Linked DNA regions of Homo sapiens: all the other regions are linked to region 1. Evidence: fine-mapped expression QTL. A gene starts in region 1. Each other region holds a variant in brackets. All regions are shown on one strand. Distances are between the middles of the regions. Region 1 holds the start of SRD5A3 (steroid 5 alpha-reductase 3). Region 2 overlaps CLOCK (clock circadian regulator). Region 3 has its middle 13 kb from the start of KDR. Region 4 overlaps CLOCK (clock circadian regulator).

Evidence for each region. PIP is the estimated chance that this variant, and not a neighbour inherited with it, causes the effect.
Region 2: its variant is fine-mapped to the expression of SRD5A3 in anterior cingulate cortex (GTEx, PIP above 0.99).
Region 3: its variant is fine-mapped to the expression of SRD5A3 in spinal cord (GTEx, PIP above 0.99).
Region 4: its variant is fine-mapped to the expression of SRD5A3 in whole blood (TOPMed, PIP above 0.99). The same link has a PIP of 0.9 or more in T cells, blood mononuclear cells, lung, monocytes and nasal epithelium.

What each region holds. Positions count from the first base shown.
Region 1 is chr4:55,343,484-55,349,612 of GRCh38, forward strand. SRD5A3 (steroid 5 alpha-reductase 3) reads left to right here and starts at 2,759. Exons shown (of 5, transcript NM_024592.5): 1 at 2,759-3,074. The coding sequence starts at 2,854. RefSeq lists an enhancer at 2,480-3,240 and silencers at 2,692-2,861, 3,072-3,341.
Region 2 is chr4:55,453,846-55,459,974 of GRCh38, forward strand. CLOCK (clock circadian regulator) reads right to left here. Exons shown (of 23, transcript NM_004898.4): 10 at 5,303-5,416; 11 at 5,047-5,165; 12 at 2,373-2,455; 13 at 2,052-2,158. Among named protein-coding and RNA genes, the nearest start is that of TMEM165, 61 kb to the left of the region's middle. The variant A/G (reference allele first, on the strand shown) is at 3,585.
Region 3 is chr4:55,135,454-55,141,582 of GRCh38, forward strand. No RefSeq gene overlaps it. Among named protein-coding and RNA genes, the nearest start is that of KDR, 13 kb to the left of the region's middle. The variant TA/T (reference allele first, on the strand shown) is at 3,014.
Region 4 is chr4:55,475,058-55,481,186 of GRCh38, forward strand. It overlaps CLOCK (clock circadian regulator), which reads right to left. Exons shown (of 23, transcript NM_004898.4): 5 at 4,583-4,642; 6 at 3,758-3,906; 7 at 906-997. Among named protein-coding and RNA genes, the nearest start is that of CLOCK, 69 kb to the right of the region's middle. The variant A/G (reference allele first, on the strand shown) is at 3,123.

The DNA of each region.
Region 1 (6,129 bases):
CGTTGATGAGAAATAAAAATGTACAATTTCCTGTTTGTTGCTGGGAAATAGAAATAATATTTATGAACAGATTTTTATCTCCAGCAACCTCCCCAAACTGCCTACTAGTTCTGATACCTTATCTGTGGATGCCATTGGAGTTTCTATTATTGGAGTTTCATATAATCATCAAATAATGACAGCGTTATTTCTTACTTAGCAGTCCTTATATGTTTTATTTCTTTTTCTGATTTATTGAGATGGCTAGGGACTTAAAGCACTGACTCTAAGGATAATTGAATTTAGATTCATATTTTGAAGGTAGAGCCAACAGGATTTGCTGACAGATTGCATTTAGGCTATGAGAGAAAGACAGGAATCAAGGTTGAGTTTAGGGTTTTTGGCCTGAGCAACTGGAAAAATGGCTTTGCCGTTTACTGCAGGCAATACCAGTAGTTTGTTGAACATATAGTGCAGTTAATTAAATGAAGAAAGACAAAAATGCTCACTGATATTTATTAGCAATGATCTTTCTAACAGATGTTAGCCTGGTATTCCACTTTTGAACTAACTCACTCCAGTAAGGATTTACATTTACAAATACTCCCAGGAGGGTTTAACTTACGGCTTTCTGTTCAGCCACTGCCATCTACAGGGGGCTTCTCTGAATATAAACTGTGCATGCTGATTAAAATCTAAAAAATAGCCAGGCAGGGTGGCTCACGCCTGTAATCTCAGCACTTTGGGAGGCCGAGGCAAGCGGATCACCTGAGGTCGGGAGTTTGAGACCAGCCTGACCAACATGGAGAAACCCCGTCTCTACTAATAATACAAAATTAGCCTGGTGTGGTGTCACATGCCTGTAATCCCAGCTACTCGGGAGGCTGAGGCAGAATAGCTTGAACCCAGGAGGCAGAGGTCACGGTGAGCCAAGATCGTGCCATTGCACTCCAGCCCGGGCAACAAGAGTGAAACTCGGTCTCAAAAAAAAAAATCTAAAAAATATATGGGATGATTTTCCCCTCCAGCCTCCTCAACCCTTCCTGTTTCCACTACACACACACTCACACATACACACACACTTATCTTGTTTTCAATCTTGCCCCAGGTCAGACAACTGTAAGAGAAACTCCTACCCAGGAAACTGAGTCCCTGCAATGCACTTACAAGTAGCTTCTCTGAAAAGAAAAAGATCATGGACAGACCAGCTGCATTTACAGAGAGTTAACCTAAGAAAAATAAAGAAACAGTGAAGGGGTGCCAGGAGCATTGGCTCATGCTTGTAATCCCAGCACTTTGGGAGGCCGAGGCAGATGGATCACGAGGTCAGGAGATCAAGACCATCCTGGCTAACACAGTGAAACCCCATCTCCACTAAAAATACAAAAAAAAAAAAAAAAAAAAAGCCAGGCGTGGTTGGGGGGGCACCTGTAGTCCCAGCTATTCGGGAGGCTGAGGTAGGAGAATGGTGTGAACCTGGGAGGCAGAGCTTGCAGTGAGCAGAGATCAGGCCACTGCACTCCAGCCTGGGCGACAAAGCGAGACTCCATCTCAAAAAAAAAAAAAAGAAAAGAAAGAAACAGTGAAAGGGTGACTCCCGCAAAAGAGATCCAGGATCACTCAATAAGGCCTCATTGTCCTAGCTAGAATGCCAATTTAACCATCCTTAATCACCTGGCTGTCAAAGGACGGGTAAAGCCTTAGGTGTCTTTTGCACAAAGAAGAAAACTTTAAAAGCTTGCTCATTTAACAGTCCAAAGTCCCACTAACCTACCCACCCTGATGTTTATTCAACACACATATCGGGTATCTCATTGGGGTAAGGGTGATGAGTTGGCTACCTCTCCCCTCTTCCACTTCTCACCCACCACCCAATCTCAAAAATGTAAGCTCCAAATAAGCAGTGACAATTATCTTGTAAACCCCTCTGTCCTCAGTATCCAAAATGATGCCTGTCATACAGTAGGCATACAATACTTCAGAATTAACATTTTAAAGACTTTTAAATACTTAAAAGAGCTAGATTTTCACTTATAGTAAATAAAATCAGTGTTGTTTAAAATCAGTGAGTCAATAAATAGCATTGTCACTACCTGAGATAAATGTTACAGGAAACAGCTGATGGAATTTAAAAACTTTGCTTCTAAGGATTGGAACCCTATTGGTAAGCGACTGCTGTTTTTTAAACACAGTTTTTACCACTATGATTTTTATTATTATGTGCAATTACTTGTCTACATGTTTACATTATACACATATCCAACACATTTCCAGCATCCTAACATAATTATTCATTTTTGGGTGTGATCTGCCTTCTTTATCCATATATACACACATTCATATTAATATAGTTGTTTGCAATCATAGCTATGTATTTTTATGGTTGGTTTTGTTTTTCACTTCACATATTGTTTCCTAAACAGCTTTCCCTGTTTCTACACTCGTCATAATAATTCTCAATGACTGCATGATATTCTAACATGTCAGTGTATCATAATTTAGCTAAATAAACTAAAATGCAACATGTAAGGTTTCCATTTTTTGCTTTGGAGATAATGTTGATAAGAGTGGCAGACACGTGGTCTCGTCTGTTTTGCGTCTTTGCTTCTGATGAATCATATTCTGGAGCTCCATCTAAGAATCCCCATGCCCAGATTAGGGACTGCGAGCGACCACCCAGCGCCAGCGCGACCAGGACCAAGGACCTCCGCGGCTGAGCGGCGAGTCCGGGAGGGGCTCTGCGCGTCCCCGCCCCGCGCCGCGTCACCGACGTCCCGCTAGGCTGAGACCGGTGCGCCGCGCGCTAGTGGCCGCTCTTCCGCGGGCTAGCGGGCGGTGGGGGCGCCAGCAGCGCGGAAGGCGGGCACGCGGGCCATGGCTCCCTGGGCGGAGGCCGAGCACTCGGCGCTGAACCCGCTGCGCGCGGTGTGGCTCACGCTGACCGCCGCCTTCCTGCTGACCCTACTGCTGCAGCTCCTGCCGCCCGGCCTGCTCCCGGGCTGCGCGATCTTCCAGGACCTGATCCGCTATGGGAAAACCAAGTGTGGGGAGCCGTCGCGCCCCGCCGCCTGCCGAGCCTTTGATGTCCCCAAGAGGTAACCGCGCCCCGGTCCCGAGCCGCGGTGGTCAAGGCGCTGAGAGTTCGGGGCGCCCCGGCTCGCGGGCAGCCAGCAGGGGGCAGCAGAGGCGGGACCCGGCCTGGGAGGCCCTGGCGGGTTCCCGGGCGCAGCACGGCGCTCCCTCGGCCTGGCCCCGGCCATGCCCCGGCTGCTGCGTGGCTCCGGGGAGCAGTGCCCGGGTGTCCGCGGACGCCGAGGGAGAGCGGAGCCGCTTGCACTCAGCTGGAGGAATGTGAACTGGTAGCCGCACGGAGCCTTTCCCTGTGGGAAATGGCAACGCATCCGAATTTAGGCCTGGTCATGCGAATTTAGGCGGCAAATTGAAGTGCCCCTTGCCCCAAATTCTCCTTTTTCCCGTACCCTGCACTCCAGTGGCTCATACTCTAACTTGAGGTCACCGGGAATCATTTGTGGAAATGAAGTTAGGCCGGCTCTTCGGCCTCGGCTTCCCCCGTTTCTCTTCCCAACCCTTGCAGTGGGGACAAAGGACTGAGTCGCCCTAACCTGCACCTTGGCAGGTGCCCCTGGGGAAGGTGGCCCAAGGTGCAGGTCATAGGCAGGCCCGTCCCGAAGCTCCATTTGACTTTCGAAAAATTCTGTAACCCAGTTCAGCGAAGGATTAAATCGTCAGGTTTTAAATAGAGACCTGTTATAATTTTCTTCTTCTCCTTTTTCCACTTTAAATTCAGGACATAGCTGGAAAGAGTTGGCCAAATACTATTCGAGATGGTAGAAATAGAACAGTGCCCCTTAAGATGCATCTTAGGCCGGGCGCAGTGGCTCACGCCTGTAATCCCAGCACTTTAGGAGGCTGAGGCAGGCGGATCGCTTGAGTTCAGGAGTTCGAGACCAGGCTGGGAAATATAGTGAGACTCCGTCTCTCCTGAAAATACAAAAAATTGGCAGGGCTTGGTGGCGTGTGCCTGTAGTGCCAGCTACTTGGAATGAAGGCAGGAAGATCATCTGAGATCAGGCATTGGAGACTGCAGTGGGCTATAATCATGGCACTGCACTCTAGCCTGGGCAACAGAGAAATACCTTGTATTTAAAAAAAATTTTTTTTTAAAGGTTAAAAACATCTGGGTTGTCGCTTGAAACACTCATAGGCAGTGCCCCAGGTCCGCAGGCAACAAAGGGACAAGTATAATTTGGCTTCTAAAACTTGGATAATCTGCGAATTTTGACTGTCAGAGAAAGATGTGTCATGTGTTAACACAGAGAAGGGAGAACTAGGTCATTCTGAGGCACCCTAAAGGGAAGAAGTAGAAGTACATGAAACAAATTGATCAAACCTCCTGTTTCCTAGAGGCTCTTTTTAAGCAAAAATTACCTGTTATCCCATTTGTAATCAGGGTTGAATCCTTTTATACTTCACAGCAATTTATTTTCTGAGTTTTGAGAAAGGTACTAGTCTAGTGTACCTGGATTAAATGGCACATGTAAAATCATCCCCTGAACTTGCATACACCCCAGCTGTTGCAACTCAAGTCTGTTATTACATGACAGCCAAGAAAGAGACTTGGTACCTTTTCCTTATTCATTACTGTAACAGTTGGTTCTGTTTGGACTTCCTGTAATTTCTACTCTATTGTGAAATAATTTACACCTTTTTCTTCTTCCAGAATTCTACAGTAGAACCTCCCATAGTGTTCAAGTGCCCTTCCCCTCCTTCTCTAAATTTAAACAGACATTTCTTTTAGTACTGGAGAAGGTACAAAACATCCAGACCAATAATGAAAGGCATTTTTATTGTGACAAAAAAAAGATAACTTGCATCAAAACTGGCAGTGTCTCCAAAAAATTAATACATGTATTACTCTCTTTTTAAATTTTATACCCCTGTTTATATGAAATAGGCAGATAATTAGAGTTGGGTGGAGGTAAGAGTCTATGGCCTCTTTTTTATACGTCTCTGTATTTTCCAAAATGTCTTCATTCACAAGATGCTTATCACTTTTATCATTTAAAAAAATGTGCTAATGGCTAAGGAGCATGTGGGAGAGATTTTACTGGTTTATAAATAGTAACCACCATTGACTAAATGTTTACATATATGATTATGTGATGACTACTAAGGAGTACGTGCCTTTCCTCATTTAATCCTCACAGTGGACCTGTGAGGGAGATGTTATTGTCATTATTCCCATTTACACACATGCAGACTCAAGCTTAGAAGATAGCAGTTGTGCAGTGATGCTAGTACTAGCAAGGGTGGTACCTGAACCCTGCCTGTTGGAATTTAAATCCCAAGCTCTTATCCTCTGGTATACTTCGTGGGAAATATCTTGTACCATGTGAAGCTCAATCTGTGTGAAAGATTAAGTGAGAATGGATTTATCCCAGATGGTAGCATTTAGTAAATATCTTGGTTAATCCAAATTTAAAATCATTTGGTAACGTTAACCTTGATACTTATATGTGAATATTTTTCCTGTGCAAAATCTAGTAGTACTCTTTTGTTTTGTTTTTTTGAGATGGAGTCTCGCTCTGTCGCCCAGGCTGGAACGTAGTGGCTCAGTCTTAGCTCACTGCAACCTCTGCCTCCTGGGTTCAAGCAATTCTCCTCCCTCAGTCTCCTGAGTAGCTGGGACTAGAGGTGCACACCACCATGCCTGGCTAATTTTTGTATTTTTTAGTGGAGACGGGGTTTCAACATTTTGGCTAGGCTGGTCTTGAACTCGTGACCTCAAGTGATCCACCCACCTTGGCCTCCCAAAATGCTGGGATTACAGGCATGAGCCACTGCACCCGGCCCTCTAGCAGTACTCTTAAAAATGAAAATAAGTTCATAATTGCTACAGTTAGAAATAGGCAGTTGTAAATCCCATTTCTGCAAATAAGGCAGTATGTAGGTAATTTTGTTTGGGATTATTTTTTTCTTTCCTACGGAGGCAAGAGTAAAACCTGAAATTGGTTCTTGGAATGTTTGTTTCCATGACTCCTGTCTGGTAGATTTTTTTTTTTTTTAAATAAGGTGATGGTTGCTTTTTTTTGTTTTCCTTTTGGTTCCTAGAGTTTTGATTTCCCAGGA
Region 2 (6,129 bases), 110 kb after region 1:
ATTTTTTCTTTAATTCATATTATATAAAGATTGTTTTTTAACCAAAAGCTATCATTTACATTTAAGTTTACACATACTATTATTTTTCTGGCCTTTTGATAACATATATGTCAATATGAAAATGTTATTCTTTAGAGCTAGTTTAAGGTCCCAAGCAATTATCAGATCTACAGTGCCCAATTCACAGCTAGTCACTGCTGATCTTACAATCTTTCCATACACAATTAATACTTAAGAATTCACACTGCTGACTTCCTCCTGCCTAGATATACAGAGGGTAATAACAATAAATAATCACCCCTGAGTTTTTTCTCCTAACTACTCTGGCAGGCACAGAATCTTTGAAGCATTTAATTTTAAACCTTAACTAACCAAAATCAAAGTAACTGAGTCTGAAGTAACTGAGTGCAGTAACTGCCAAAACATGTGCTGTGGATTTTAAGTTCTGAAGCGTTTTAACAGATATTAAACAAAAAAATGGGTTTTGGGCCAGGTGTGGTGGCTCACGCCTGTAATCTCAGTACTTTAGGAAGCAGAGGTGGGAGGATCACTTGAGGTCAGGAGTTTGAGACCACCCTGGCTCACATAGTGAAACCCCATCTCTACTGAAAATACAAAAATTAGCCAGGCATGGTGGTACGTGCCTGTAATCCCAGCTACTCACGAGGCTGAGGCAAGAGAATCACTTGAACCCGGGAGGTGGAGGCTGCAGTGAGCTGAGACACGCCACTGCACTCCAGCCTGGGTGACAAAGCAGGACTCCATCCCAAAAAAAAAAAAAAAAAAAAAAAAAGGGTTTGTAGTTAAATTAATTTGGGAAACTTTTTGTTAAATAGGTGTCTTCAGTTTTCTCAAAACCTAGAGTATGCTAATGCATGTGCAGATTCTCTGAGGGATTATGAAGTGTTTCCCCATCTTCCTTGACTATAAAGTCTTTTTTTATGGACCAACATTCGGTGGAACAAACCTTAGAAAATGCTAGTCAAGAATCTCTCAATCTGTCCCCCCACCCCCCAACCCCGCCGCCACCGCCTCTCACTCTCTAAGGAGGAAATCAAGGTCTACAAACAAACTTGCTGTCCAAAGTTACCCAGCTAGTTAATAGAGGTATCAGCTCTTTAGACAACATCATGGTGCTTAATGCCCACATCTTTTGTGCTGAAATGACTTTACTCTGAAAATTTTCCATAGAGTTAATGCTATTATACAACCTGCTTCATTTTCATACAGTGAGGTTTATAACAGCAGCATAAAACGTCATGAAAAGGTCTAAAATATCTAGTTAAGCTTTAGTGAACACTCAAGATGGTAAGCATCTGGGAGGAGGATCAGAGAAGCAAATAAAACATATCATTAAGGCAAACCTCATCATTAAAACAAACTTCTAAAATAAATACATGTGATAAAAAGAGTAGGCCTAGGCTCCAATCCTGTCTCTGCCACCAATGAGCTATGAAATTATGGGTGAATTACTTAGCCTTACTGTGTTCTCAGCTTACTCATGAAGATAATAATAGCATCTACCTTTTAGAACTGTGATGGAGAATAATGAAGATAATAGATGTAAAGTGTTTAGAACAGTGCCTGGCACAAAGGATGATAATGCTCCTGCTCTAACAACAATAATAAGCAGATAACACCAAGCACTTACTATGAGCTTTCTAAGACAGATTTTCCAGACATGTACCTAGCTCCTGAAAAGATTCACATGCCTCAAAATCAAAATTTAGGAAACAATACTCCAAAAGTTTGAAGTATTACAATTTTCAAAGGAATCTACTTCTCTTACTCCAGATATAGAGCTCACGTGCTTCAGAACAAGGTGTATTAGATGCAATATTATAAAATTCTACTTATTATAAAAATAGGAACAAGTTTAAACTTGATCTATGATTCCTACTACATTGGTTATATACATAAAGCAAAATCTTTTAGCATATTTCAAAAATATGAAAATGATTATAAATCTGTGTCTTACTACCTATCATTTCAGGACAGGACTTCTGCTTATAAAACAGTTATTATCACCAGAAATGTTAAAATCTACTTACAGTGCTCATGACATTTTGCCAAATTTTCTAGGTCATCCACATGATAGTAATCATAGCCTGATGTTCCCAGAACTTCAAATGGCAAATACCCTATTATGGGTGGTGCCCTAAATTACACAGAAAACAATCATTATTATAAGTTTTTCCATAATAAGAAATATTTCAACTAGAAATAAACTTTGGGGGGGGGGCTTTATTTTTCAAAAAATGGGAACAGGTTTCAAAGTCCTAATTTAAAAAAAAGTTTGCCCTTGATCCATTAATTTCAAGAATTATATAACATGACTATTACCTTTTCATGGAATTTAAAAATGGAATTACCTGTGATCTAGAAACAGAAACTTCCATTCTAAACTATGTCTAGATGTAAACTCTTCATTGGGTTCTTCAACAGTGCACATTTCCTACAAATAAATAATTAAAATTTATAAATACTTTGTGTCCTTAAGAATATTAAATATTGCTACATATAAAAATAAGTCATGGCCAGGTGCAGTGGCTCACACCTGTAATCCCAGCACTTTGGGAGGCTGAGGTGGGCAAATCACTTAGGTCAGGAGTTTGAGACCAGCCTGGCCAACATGGTGAAACCCGATTTCTACTAAAAATACAAAAAATAGCAGGGCACGGTGGCGGGCACCTGTAATCCCAGCTATTCGGCAGGCTGAGGCAGCAGGATCACTTGAACCCAGGAGGTGGAGGTTAAATAAATACATAAATAAATAGTCATTACTAGATAAACTTTTCCTAAACAAGTTAGTTGTTTCTATGTATGTATATATTTACCTATTTCTTTGTTTGACACAGGGTCTCACTCTGTCACTCAGCCTGAAGTACAGTGGTGTGATCTCAGTTCACTGCAGCCTCAACATCCTAGGCTCAAGCGATCCTCCTGCCTCAGCTTCCCAAGTAGCTGGGACTATAGGGATGCACCACCACGCCCGGCTAATTTTTGTATTTTTATTTGTAGAGGTGGGGGGTCTATGTTGTCTAGGCTGGTCTTCAACTCCTGGGCTCAAGCAACCTGCCCACCACAGCCTCCCAAAGTGCTGGGATTCTAGGCATAAGCCAAAATGCAGGCCCTTCTAAACAAGTTAATATATTTTAATTTTCCAGTACTAAAGAATGTGGTAATAAATAACCTTTAGATGCAAGCTTTTGGGTGGGTACTTCTCACTCTACACATTTTCCATTCACACATGCCTATAAACGCTTATTCAAAATTCAGACCTCTCTCCTGAATTACAGTTCCATATTTCCAAATATCTGAATGTCCTCATACATCTCAAATTCAATATGTCCTAAAATAAACTAACTGCTTTACTCCTCACACCCAATCACACAATTTTCCGTATTATTCTATACATGTGTAGTGGCCAGTGTCTAGAAATCTGATAGTTAAAAAAACATACTCTTTCATTTTTACCTTTCATCATCTAAGTGGCCATTACTAAATCTTTTCCATTTCATCTAAGTATTTTAAAAATCAATTCTATCTCATCCATCTTGAGTGCATTGGTTTAGACCCCTGCC[A/G]TCACTGATTTGCTACAGTGTTCACCAGTCTCCCTGTCCTTCAACTCATCTTCTCTTCTAGGGCCACAATTACCTTACCAATACTCAAATATTATATGACTTCCCTGCTAAAAAACCTTCAGTGGTTCCTTGTGCTAAACTCTCTTCAGCATGGAGAAATAAACAAGAAAGAAACAAATTTTATTTCTGGTTTCTGATTACTTTTCTAGCCTTACCTCCCACTATCTCTTCCCCCTCCACACACTAACCCTAGACTCTAGTCATACTAAACAATGTATTCCATCCTGCCTCTGTGTCCCTGAATGACCTGCAGCACTCTGTAATAGTTGAGAGCTTGGGCTTTGAGAAAAAAACAATTATTAATTAATAGAATCAAGTCCCAGTTTCATCACTAATAGCTGAGACTTTGGGCAAGTCACTTAACTTCCCTAAGCCTGTTTCCTTATAATGTAAAATGAGGGATCGTAATGGCATCTAACTTATAGGGTTGTCATAAGAATTAATGAGATAATGCATATAAAATACACAGCATGTAGTAAGCACTCAAATGTTAACAACTATTATTTCATAAGATCAAAACAAACCAAGCAAGACTGGCTTAAGATCTTCTATTAATTCAGTACTTTGTCCTATACTATGATGTCCCCCCAAATTTATTTGAGACAGAGTCAGACTCTGTCTCAAAATAAAATGCAAACACAGTTCACTGCAGCCTCGACCTCCTGGGCTCAAATGATCCTCCTGCCTCAGCCTCCTGAGTAACTGAGACCACAGGTGTGTAACACCATGCCTGGCTAATTTTTTGTATTTTTTGTAGAGATGGGGTCTTGTCACGTTGCCCAGGCTGGTCTCAAACTACTGGGCTCAGGCAATCCTCTCGCCTTGCTCTCCCAAAGTGCTGGGATTACAGGCATGAGTCACCTCGCCTGGCCCCGCCGAAATTTTAAATCTTAGCCTGGCTGCCTCTTTCCAGTCAGTTTCTAGTGGTTAACTCTTTCACTTTCCCACTTCCCTACTTGTCATCTGTTTGTTGGGTCCAGGAAATAAAAATAAAATACCTAATTTTACATTTGAAAAGGTAAGTTATATGTGGCAAAGAGCCACTTGTACATTTCAAATAAAAATTTAAAAGTTACCTTCTAAAAATAAAGATTCCAAAAACCTAGATTTTTGGACTTTCCCTTTTAATAGAGATAATGAACAACACACAAAAGGATCCTAAAATCTTCCACAAAAGTAGGGCAATATTGATATATAATAATCACTGGTTAACTGCAAAGGATATATACTAAAAAATTAGTTATACAATTTAATGAGTGTCTTGATAACTCATCGTTTCAAAAATATTATCATGCATATTTAATGACTCATAGCCATTCCACCTCAATGTCTGCAGGAAGTTTCAGGCAGCTCTCAGCATATGAACTGAAATCCCCTTTGGGAAATAAAATTAAAAACATACCTTGATGAACTGAGGTGTAGCTAACCTGACAGTAGCTACAAAACAAACTCTATCTTCATAAGATGGCCTATGTGTGCGTTGTATAGTTCCTTCAAAACCATTGTGTGCTGAAGAGGATACTAAAACAATAGGGAAATATGTATCATCAGTTATGCCAGCAAAACCTAATTGTCACTGATATTCAAACATCTATGTCTTTAAGAGCACAGAAAAATAACAAGTTAAAACACATTGTGAGAGAAGCATTTTAACTCACCACTGTTTAAAGATTTGAAATTTCCTATAAATTTTACATATTCATAGGTAGATGGCTCCTTTGGGTCTATTGTTCCTCGCAGCATGTGACAACAGAATTCTAACTGATTTTTTGCTGAAATAAAAGAGATTTTAAAAATCACATATTTCTGATATAAAACAATGATTGATATACCACATAAAGTAAGATCATAAAAGTTGTGTAAGTTTACAACCATTATTTTCCCCAACAGAAGTCGTCAATGACATTTAGTTCATAAAAGTAGAGCACCTTCAGGAGAGGATCTCACTTTGTCTTTAATAGAAAAAATAGATTTTCTGGTGCAAACAACTTAATGTTTCCCTATTTTTAGCTACTCATCCTTTTCATTCTTTACTCACTTTCAAAGGAAAGTTTTGCTTCACATTCTAAAGCTAATCCTTCCATCTCTACCATTTATAGTCTTTCCTATTTTCTCTAGGACCCGGGCCACATCACTGTTCCTTATTCCTTTAGCATCTACACCTTTGGGTCCTTACTTTCTTCTTTTTTTTGAGACAGGGTCTTGATTTGTCACCCAGGCTGGAGTGCAGTGGCATGATCACTGCTCACTGTGGCATTGAACTCCTGGGCTCAAGTGAGCCCCCTGCCTCAGCCTCCCAAGTACGCAAGACTACAGGTGTGAGCCACCATGCCTGGCTAATTTTTAATTTTTTATAGAAATGGGGTCTCACTATGTTGCCCAGGCTGGTTGCAAGCTTCTAGGCTCAAGCAATCCTCCTGCCTCAAAGTGGAGGGATTATAGGCGAGAGCCACTGCACCTGGCCAAGGGTCCTTACTATCTACTT
Region 3 (6,129 bases), 210 kb before region 1:
CTACATTCCATGATATCCCCCTGCCTTTTCTTTTCCTCTCAAATCCAATTTTGTCTACATTCTTTACTTCCCTCATATCCATCTCCTATTTTCATTCATCAGACTGCCCTGACTCGTGACCAGTTTGCCTTTTTCCTGGAATATTCCAGTCCACTCATCACTCTGCTGCCAAAGTTATCTTCCTAAAACACAAAGTTCATCTGTCCTTCACCTTGGACAGTTGACCTCTGTACATAGCATAAAGCCCCAAATCCCAAGCCTTGTATTTAAGGGTTTTGTTCTTTGCTGCTTCCTATTTATACAACTTACCTCCCGGTATACCGTGGACATACTCTTAGTCCAACTTTCTAGATTTCAGTGGCCACCTCCAGAAAATGCATTACACTTTTTTGTCTCTTGCTTACTGTATGCCTTGAATGTGCTTTATTCCAATATCTGCCCATACGTAGTTGGCCCCTCTTTAAAAAGAGGCCCCAGGAAGTCTCTGCAATCCCTACTCATTCCCATCTCCCCATCTGACTTACTCTCTCCATGCCTGCAAGAGTAAGGATTCCTTAAGTTGTAAGAAACAGGAAAACCAACTCAATTTGGCCTGAATGTATAGGATCATGTTGTTGTAAGTTATGGGCTGGCTTCAGACAGTTTTTTCCAGAGTCTCATTGTGTCATCCTGCTGTTTTTCTCTGTGATTTTCTCAATTCTGCCTTCAGGCTGTCCTCATAATAGAAAAAAAAAACATGACTACACATTCTCACCCCACACTGTCCACAGAAAGACAGTGTCTCTTGAGAAATAAAAGGGAAGATCCTTTGATCCTTTGACCTAAGCACATCTTAAATCTCATTGCCTTATCCCTAAACCAATTACCAGAAGCAGGAAGGATCTGATAGCCTATGTCAGAGTCCACCTTTGCAATTAAGAATAGGCTCAATAACACCAAACTACATAATTAAAATAGAAAAGGGACTATTACTCAAAAAATTCTAAATATTTTTCTAGGAAGCAGGGGGAAATGGATGTTAAAGAGACAGCTAATCAATGACAATTATATTCCCCACGGTCCAAGAATATCTGTTGTGACATAAAGGATATCATGCCTTATAACAGGTTTATTTGAGTATGTGTGTCTGTCTCTCTCATTATATTGTAAGATGAAAGACAAGTTTAGTGTGGCTTACATAATCGTTTACTCTAAACTTCCAAATAATTGATGACAAGATTTTCATTCTTCTTCTGAAATAGTTTTTTCTGCATCCAACAGTATCATCATAATAATGACTAACATGTATTGAGTTATCATGTGTCAGGCCCTGTTGTAAGCATTTTACGTGTGTTGACTCCCTTAATTCTCACCATCAGGCTACACATTTCACAGATGCAGAAATTAGGGCTGAGGGAGGTTAAGTAACTTACCCAATCCTAAGCAGCTTGTGTATGGAGGAGCCAGGACTTGAGCCAAAGCAATGTGTTTCCAAAGTCTACACTCCAAAGCTGACTCTTATGCTGGTTGTATTTACTAATCTCAATAAAATGTACCTGTTGGCAAAACAGTAAAAAGCTACTTATCTTTCAGCCCACCCATTCAGACTACCACTCAGTCTTGCCAATTCTTTTTTAATGTATCTGTCCTTTATGGTTTGTTCTTACATTAAATTGACCATTCAAATTCTGACCATCTCTTGGCTAGAATTCTAGACTAATATATTTAAGAATCAATCCATCTCATATTTCCATCCCAAACTATACACTTAGCCTCAATACTTTTCTTCCTGACCTGATCCCCCATATTAAAGGTGGAACATCTTTCAGCTCATAATCAGAAGAGAATAAGACCATCAGAAGTTAAATATCTAGAGTGGCTTGTGACAACAAGTCTTATGGGGCAGCATGGTAATTGATTCTTTGATGTTGTCCCACCTCTGAGATGGAACTCATATAACTGTGAGAGCCCTTCAGAGATTATACAATCCAGTGCCTTCTCTTCAGTCAGGAATCCATTAACCATTAAAGATTAATCTTGATTATTAGCATCTTGAAGAGGCATTGAAAAGATTCTCCACAACCACACTTGGAAATACAGAACTTCTCCCCCCAGCATGTAACTGTGACAGCGGCATGCCATGAGGTTTCACCCCACGTTATGTACCCAGTATCCTGCTGCAGTGCCAGAGGCCTGCTCCTTGAGCACAGATCACAGATTGCCAAGCAATCTCTACTAATTCATTACTTTGCTTTCTAATAGCAAGGTAATTATGATTTATCTATGCAAACACCAGCATTTTAGATGTTTTAAAAGTATTACGCATGCACTAGATATATTGTTCCTTTTCTTAGGGAATTTATGGATATGTATCATTTTATTTTTAAGTTTTAACTTTCTTATGTATTTATTTATTTGAGATTTATTAGTGTTGAATCAGTGGTTCTCAACCCCGGCTACACATTAGAATCTGCAGGGTCTGGGGAGCTTTGAAAACCTGGTAGCTGGCGCCTTCCTACATCATAAATCAAAATCTTTGGGAGGAAAGATTTGATCAATAGATTTTTGTTGTTGTTGTTTATTTGTTTTCTACTATGATTCTGTTGTGCAGCCAAAGTAGAGAGACATCATGTTAAACTCTTGTTCATGAGAACAGAAATATCTTTCCAAAATTTAGAAATAAAAACTTTATAGCTTCAGGATGATTCCGTCCATTGGGTACAAGAGCCACAGTGAGCTTTCCAAAGAGCACCAAAAATACATGAGAAATTTGAAAACCGTAACACATAAGAGCAAAATAATTTATTCCTAACAAACTCAAAATTATGAAGAATACTTTTAAATACATTTCACCCCCCAAAATCTGTTTCATGTGAATGACTGTTAAGGTGTTTGGCATGATTCAGGGTGAGTCTTCCACATGTAAGGGCATTTATAACAAGTTCTTAAAGCATTCCTGAGTATTTCAAATTGCTATTTAACATTTGACTGATGAAATGTTTCTACCTACCACTGGGAAAAAAAGTAGAAGAAG[TA/T]AAAAAGTCTGAAGTCAACAGTCTGGTACTAATAATTCACTTTGATAGGAAGAATTACAGCGTTCCAAGTCTTAGCTTCAAACAGAAGATAAGCTTTTTATGTTTGTTGAGGCAGCTCTCTCCTTTTTTTCTGAGTCATGCTTTTTGTGAAACGCTACTATGAATGAAAGAAGAACTGCGTGAGGGGGATTGAGTGGGAGGAAGACACCAAAATTGAGTTTCAAGAAATATACATCATCTAAATCAGTTAATCTGATCTAGAAACATTGCTGAACATAATGGAGTATGTGGTGTCGTCTTTTGCCCTTCCTAACTCCTAAAATCAAAAGTCAAATTCTAATAAACTAGAGTAATATGTAGAGCTAACTCATATCCAGTTAAAAGAATTCTTTAGGGTCTAGAATGAGGACCCCAGAGTACAGCCACCTTTAAAATTCTTGGCCGGGAGTGGTGGCTCGTGTCTGTAATCCCCAGCATTTTGGGAGGCCGAGGTGGGTGGATCACGAGTCAGGAGTTTAAGACCAGCCTGGTCAAGATGGTGAAACCCCGTCTCTACTAAAAATACAAAAAAATTAGCCGGGCATGATGGCGGGCGCCTGTAATCCCAGCCACTCGGGAAGCTGAGGCAGAGAATTGCTTGAACCCAGGAAGCAGAGGTTGCAGTGAGCCAAGATCACGCCACTGCACTCCAGCCTGGGCGACGGAGACTCGACTCAAAAAAAAAAAAAAAAAAAAAAAAAAAATTCTTTATAAGCTTGTGTTTCAAAAAGTTTTAAAACATCTGTATGTGTGTGCTTGTGTACAGAATACACACTAAAACCATACCCATCAGAATCTAACAGCGGTTATTCCTCAGTGAGAAAAATATGAATGACTCAAATTTTCTTCAACCATCACATAATACTTTTTATATGTATATGCATAGCAGAAAAGTCTTGAAGGGCTCACATGAAACTTAATTACTCCTGAGGACCAGAATGGGGTGGTAATGATGGAAGGGGTCTCATTTATTACTCTATATTCTTTCATATTATTGAATGTTTTTATTAATAATTTATAATTGAAAACGATAGTTTAAATAATAATAAACATATGATTAACATTTGAATTTTAAAAGAGCCATTAAAGACCATACTCATTCTTTCCAGTTGGGAAGTGTCTTTATTAATATCTCATCTGCCCAGGTGGGTAAGAGAACGTGAACAGAAATGCTCTCACATTTTTAATATTTGTTATGGCAACATCTCACTTCCAGGTACCAAAACCTGTGTCATTTTCCATTACTGCATAACAAATGACTCCAAAACCTAGTGGCTTCAAATAACGAGAATTTATTATCTCAGTTTTTGCAGGTCAGTGAGGGCAGTCTAACTGGGTTGATCTGATTCTGGGTCCTTCATGAGCTTGCGGTCAAGATGTCAGCAAGGGATGTGGTCATATGAAGGCTTGACTGGGGCTGAAGAATACCTTTCTGGTGTGACTCACTCACATGACTATTGGCAAGAGAACTCAGGTCTTCACTAAATATTGGGAATCTCTATAGGGCTACTTGAGTGTCCTTATGTCATGGAAGCTGCCTTCCGCAGAGCAAGTGACCCAAGGTAGCAAGGTGGAAGCCACACGTCTTCTATGACCCAGACCCAGAAGTCATACACTGTCAGGTCCACGGTATCCTATTAGTTCACAGTTCAGCCCTCTTCCGTGTGGGAGAACAGTAATTCCAGGACTTTCATACCAGGGGCAGGGGTTACTGGGGGCCCTCTTGGAGTTTATTACAATTTCCGTCATTAGTGTTTTATAGTTTTCAACATCCAAATCCTGACCATATTTTTATAGATGTATCCCAAAGTATTTCATATTCTTTGATGTCATTGTAAATGGTACCATTTTTAAGTTTTAATCTCCAATTGTTTTTTGCTATTATATAGAAATATAATCAATTTTTATATTGTCCTTGTAACCTGTGCCCTTGCTAATCTCACATATTAGTTCTAGTAGGTTTTGATAGATTTGGAGATTTTCTATGTAGATGATAATGTTACCATTAATAAAGACAGTTTTAGTTCTTCCTTTCCAATCTGTATGCCTTTTATTTATTTGTTGGCTTGTTGCATAGACTAGGATCTCTAATATAATGTTGAATAGAGGTAATGAGAATGTGCATCCTTGTCCCATATCCAAGCTTGAGAAGAAAGTATGTAGTTTTTCATCATTAAGTATGATGTTTTAGGTTTTCCATAGATACTTTTTATCAGGCTGAGGAAGTTCCCTTCTATTTCTAACTTATTGGAATTTATGATGAATAGATGTTGAATTTAGTCAAATGTTTTTTCTGACTCTATTGAAATAATAATATGGTTGTTCTTCTTTAGTCTGCTGCTATGTCAAATTGCATTGATTGATTTTTGAATGTTGAGCCAAACTTGCATTCCTGGCAAAATAACCACTTAGATATAATGTGCTTTCTTTTATTTTTTAATATATGGCTAGATTCAATTTGCCAATGTTTTGTTAAAAATTTTTGAACCTATATTAATGAGGGATATTAGTCTTCAGTTTTTTTTTTCTGTTTCTGTTTTGTTATCTTGACAATGATAGCCTCATAAAATTAGTTAAGAAGTATTCTCTTCTATTTGCTGAACCATAGATATTTGCAGGTAAAATGATATTATCTTGGACTTGATTCAAATTATTTTGGATGGATAGAGGGATGGATGTGAATATACATGATACAGGATAGTCCAGGAGTTTATAATTATTGAAGATTAGCAATGATTACGTAAGGATGTACGACACTTTTCTCTGTGCCTCTGTATATGCATGACATTTTTGATAATAAAATGTTTTCTTTCTTTTTTTTCTTTTTTTGAAACAGAATATTGCCCGGTCGCTCAGGCTGAAGTGCAGTGGGCATGATCTCAGCTAATTTTTATGTTTTAGTAAAGATGGGTTTCACCATGTTGTCCAGGCTCATCTCAAACTCCTGACCTCAAGTGATTCACCCTCCTCAGCCTCCCAAAGTATTTGGAGTACAGGCGTGAGCCACCGTGGCTGACCAAATATTTTCTTTAAAAATAAACCAGTGTCTTTTCCACAGCTCTATCCTAGTTTCCAA
Region 4 (6,129 bases), 130 kb after region 1:
AACTGAAAACCTTCTGGAAAGAATTCACCCGTCTAGATGGCATGAGAAGATTTCTGATTCATGGGAGAAGGTCAAAATATCAACATTACCAAGAGTTAAGAAGAAGTTGATTACTTGTGGATAACTTTGAGGGGTTCAAGATGTCAGTGAAGGAAGTAACTGCAGATGTGGTAGAAACGGCAAGAGAATTAGAATTAAAAGTGGAGTCTGAAGATGTGACTGATTGCTGCAATCTGCTAATAAACCCGAACTGATGAGGAGTTGCTCCACTGATGAGTAAACAAAGTGATTTCTTGAGATCGACTCTACTCCTGAAGAAGATGTGAATACTGTTGACATGACAGCAAAGGATACAGAATATTACATAAATTTAGTTGATAGAGCAGCAGCAGGGTTTGAGAGTACTGACTGTAATTTTGAAAGAAGTTCTACTCTGGGTAAAATGCTATCAAACAGCACTGCATGTTACAGAGAAATCTTGAAAGGAAGAGTGAATCAGTGTGGCAAACTTCATTGCTGACTCATTTTAAGAAATTGCCGTAGCCACCCCAACCTTCAGCAACCACCACCCTAATCAGTTAGTAGCCACTGACACTGAGGCAATACCTTCCACCAGCAAAAAGATTAAGACTTGCTGAAGGCTCAGATGATTGTTAGCATTTTTTAGCAATAAAGTATTTTTAAATTTAGGTATGATCAGTATTTTTTATATAATGTTATTACACACCTAATAGACTACAGGGAAACAAAACAATTCATGTGACTCATTTTACTGAAATATTAGCTTTATTGCAGTGGTCTGGAACTCAACTCGCAATATCGCCAAGGTACACCTGGATATTAAGTCACCCTGTGATTTCTTTTTTGAGGAAAATAAAACTTTCAAAAATTAAATCTGGACATACCTCTAACATTAATTGTGTAAACTCTTCATTACTAAGGAATGTAGGTTTCCAGTCCTGTCGAATTTCACTAGCATCTGACTGTGCAGTGATTTCTGTAAACAGATTGACATATTAGTGGCATACTCCAACCACCGGAGGAGTACAAAAGCCCTACAAGTTATCTTGTCTCTTCCCATTCTAATTAAAGATGACAACCGTAGGCATTAACATTTATTGGGTAGATATCAAGAGGTCCAGGTTTTGGTATGATGAAATATTTGAGATAACATGGCAAGTTATCTCCTTGGATTTGGTCTCTTGGTAATACCAGTCTCTTCGGTTTTTCTCTTGGTACTCTGATAGTTATGTTGCTGATGGGCCTGAGATTGCTTCCTATTTGACACAATGACCAAAGAAGATTTTTGCTCCAAGAATTTTGAAGCAATTCTTTTTTTCCTTTTCCTTCCCTTGCCATTCAAATAGCAATGTCTAGAGCAGCACTAGGGAAATTAGCTGAAAAAGGCCAAAGAGGTCACTAGGTTTGCTTTCAACAAAGAATGCCTTAGGCCTGCCTACTGCTGGGCAAAAAGCTTCTTCCCAACATTAAGTGCTCTATCTTAATTAATCAAAGAGACTAAATTAATATTTTATGCAAAAACTTTACTACAGTAATATTCCCACAGTGATTTTTCTTAGTGTCCTCCTTGTACAACAGTAGAGAGATGGTGAAAAATTTGGAGATCCCTGCTGTGGGACATATGTTTGTCACAATTATTACCATTTTATTTCACTACATACTTCTAATAGATTTAGTTATGAAAAAGCTATTCATAAATGATGAAACCTAGTAACAAATGTTTTTCTATTTTTTAATGTAGACATATTAAAACAAGCAGGCAGAATAAAAATCTATGTCATAGACTATATTCTACAAAATATACTCTAATTTGTAGTAAGAAGTATAAACTAAATTCTGATTTTATCATCAGATAGAGAAATACAGCATACTGTCCCTCATCAAAAGTTAGCATATTAGAAATGCCTGTAGTGGAATATGAAGAGTAACTAAGAAGTAGAGCTACTAAATGTGCGGAATACAGTTGTGTTTTTCAAATTCACATCAATTATATACATTTGGGAAAAGGATTTAAATCCACAAACAAATCCAATCAAGTTTCATTAAACATAGGCCTATTTTAGGATGATACATATATAAAATCCTTTTACCTTAACAGAAATACTATTTTTGTGAGAATTATGTATCTGATTTTGAAAAAAAAAATTACCTAATGCCACAATTCATCCTCTATTGACGGGGAAATATATGCATTTCATTTCATTCAACAACCATTTATTGAACTCCTAGTATCTTTGGACTGGTTTCAATGAGTGTGCCATTTAACAATAGGCACTGAGGTTAGTGAGATACTATCTGTAGAGGTAAAATGTAATAATAGTGGTGGCAATAAATATTGACACATTTACGAAAGAATCAACAGAATTTGGCAACTGTGATATGGTGCTAAGGAAGCTGAAAAAAAATCCTAAAATTTTTTCAGGTTTAAGTCTTAGGTGACTAAAAGGATGGTGGTATAAAAATGAAAAAAGGCAAGTTAAGAGAAAGAGGTAACTTGACAAAATGAAAATAAATTCAATTTTAGATGCACTGAGTTTGAGGACATGCAAAAGAAAGATCTAGAAGTTATCTGGAAATACATGGCTAAAATGTTTGCATCTAAAAATAGAAATCTGGTAGGTTAATAGAGACACAATAGCTGAAGCTATGGAATGAGATAAGCAAGAGAAAGAGTGTACAGAAAGCAAGAGAACAAGGATAAGACTTAGGAATGTCACATTTAGAGGGTAGAAAGAGAGGAAAGAAGTTAGTTTCAGTTAGAAAAGGGGAGGAGAAAGTACAATATAAGGGAAGCCAAGGGAGGAGGGATAAAAATTTCCAGTGCTGTACAGATGCAGAAGAAGATGCGGTATAAGAAAAAGCTATTGCTTTATTGAGGGATAGGAAGGTAATGTCATTAGTGAAATTAACAAAAACACTTTCAACGAGTGGTGGAGCATAAACCAGTCCTGTAAGGCATTACCAACTGAGCTAGGCAGAAGTAAAACAGAGGCACTAATTACTAACTGTCCTGAGTTTTACAGTTTCATTTGCATTTGAAAAAGGAAATTTCCTTTTACAGGTTTTTTTTAAATCTATTATTATCTGTTACCAAAATACTT[A/G]ATATTCTTTAAATTTTCTTTCCATGACTCATTTGTCAAGATGATTTTCTTCTATTAACAAATACTTTATTTTATAGTGTTGATTTACTAGATATACATTGAAACCTTTTAAAATGACACATAAGAACTTTATACTATCCAGCTTTTTCCTTTCTTTCAAATACACCCATAATTTTCCAACACAAACATGCTTCAGTGACAATGAAGTCTCCCTGCCTCTCTGCTTTTGCACATATTCCCTTTGTGTGACATGCTGTCTTCCTTAATCTAAAAGACTCAGTTGAAAAATCAACTATTTTAAAAGTCTCCCTGACATACTCTTTCCTGTGTTTTTGCTGCAAACAGTTTACAAGCACTACTCACATTTGTAATTATGTGCTTACATGTTTGTCTGCCCTGGCTTGACTTAACTTCAAATCCAGGACTGTTACCCTGCATCATGAGGATTTAGCATGTAGTAGGCACGGAATAAATGTTTGTTGAATGAAAGAATGAACATATTAGGAAACCTTTTAAAATGCAATTGATTTCTCTCTCTTAAAAAAGCCAAGGAAGCATCCAATCTTAAGCATCTCTGCCAAGATTCTAACTAATGCTTTGAGAGTCTGTTCCATTTTACAGAGTTAAAAATTTACCTTTATGTTTTCGTAAAAAATCAATGCTTTTCTGCAGAACAGTAGATTTGTCCATCTTTCTAGCATTACCAGGAAGCATGGATCCCAGTTCTTTAATGAGAACATTAAATTGATCTCTACGTTTCTTTTCAGATTTGTTTCTAGATACTCTGATGAAATGAAAAATATGCATTTTTTAAACAATCCATTTAATTACACAAGTAGTTTAATACAATGTTAATTTAGACATGACACAGCATGTACTTCTATCAACATAGATGGTAACAAATATCTTCCAGGTTACCAATATACAGTTAATTTGGGCAATAATTTTTCAGCTCAGTTTATTACTAAAGAAAATTTTACAAATCATACATTTGACAAACATGTTTTTATGAAAATGCCAATAAGAAAAACTGCATTCAAATCACAAGTTTTATTCAATCTAATACTTCCAGTGATTGTTAACTTACATGGTTATTATAAATATATGTACTAAATGAATAAAGACGCTATTCTATGTGAAGCAGTAACCAGTAAACAAACAGCTATTGAGAAAAACTTGATTATTTATAAAACAATCATTTTATGATACCTGTAATTATCTGCTTTGAAGTCAGATTTTCTAATTCAGTTTCTGTTTAAGCAAAGCATAATACTTTTCCAAAAGGTCAGAAGATATTTAATTTATAAACTACATACCAATATTCTAAGTTCTTCCACCTTGCTAATATATCTAAACTCCTAAAGCACATAGCTTTTGGAAATCATTTATTCACTATTTATTTACCATTATATTTATCTATTATTCATTCATTTACTATTTTATATCTCTAATCAAACTACCTTTTCGCTTTGTCCTTGTCATCTTCTTCCACCAACCCATCAAAAATACTACTGTCATCTCTAAAAGAAAGCGGATAGAGAAAGTAAGAGCAGACTCACTAAGCAACAGCAATACTAAAGTGACATGTAAATCAACTCAGTTATGCCCTATGATTTTTGTAAAGTTAATGAGTTATAACATTCAAACTACTAACCTATTTCCTAGTAAACATTCAAAAATCAAAATTCAGTAATAATTATATTTTTAAGCTTATTACATAAATTGTAAAAGTATTTATACTTAGCTATATTATGAACACATCATGCTAAACAAGAATTTAACCAGTTTAAATATCTTGTTTCAAACTTTTAGTAACGGTAAAAACGTATAGAAAGTCAGTGTTTGCCATTATATAAAATTATTTTTAACTATAACAGCATAATTTAAATTTTTTCTTAGATATTTACTTTCTAAAACCACAATTACTCGTAAACATCACAATGTAATGCATTAACTTATATTAATACATTTCATTCATTTACTAATTCATTTGACAAATATGTATTAGCACTCATGTGCTCTGTTCTGGACATGTTTAGTAAGCAATGAATAAGACATTTAGCTGCTTTCCTACAGTTTTTCCTTCTTTTTCCTTTTTTTCTGGAGACAGGGTCTTACTCTGCTGCCCAGACTGGAGTGCAGTTGCACAAACATGGCTCACTGCAGCCTCAACCTCCTGGGTTCAAGAAGTCCTCTTGCCTCAGCCTGCTGAGTAGCTGGGACCACAGGTACATGCCACCATGACTGGCTAGTTTTTTTATATTTTTGTAGAGATGGGGTCTTGCTATGTTGACCAGGCTGGTCTTGAACTCCTGGGCTCAAATGACCTTCCTATCTCAGCCTCCTAAAGTGTTGGGATTACAGGTGTGAGCTGCCGTACCCAGCCTCATTTTCTAGTAGATAGAAACAAGTATAAAAATGGGAGATGAGGCTAGGCGCAGTGGCTCACGCCTGTAATCCCAGCATTTTGGGAGGCCGAGGCGGGCGGATCACGAGGTCCAGGAGATCGAGACCATCCTGGCTAACACAGTGAAACCCAGTCTCTACTAAAGATACAAAAACTTAGCCGGGCGTGGTGATGGGCAACTGTAGTCCCAGCTACTCAGGAGGCTGAGGCAGGAGAATGGCGTGAACCCAGGAGGTGGAGCTTGCAGTGAGCCGAGATCGTACCACTGCACTCCAGCCTGGCCAACAGAGTGAGACTCTGTCTCAAAAAAAAAAAAGAGATGAGTTTTAATTTTTTTTAAAGGGGTGATGTTTTAGTAACTGCAGTCTGAGCGGTTAGTGGGGGACACGTGAGCTAGGATCTAAGTGACAAGAAGGGGCTGGCTATGGGAAGATGTAAGGAAAGACCATTCCTAAAAAATAAAATCAAGAGCATTGGTGGCTAACTCAACCCTAGGAGCAATATTAAAGTTTCTGCTGATTTATGAAGTTTTACATAAATTCCCTATTCACTCCTTTAGCCACACCTTTCTATGGCCTATAAAGGCCTATATGCTATAAA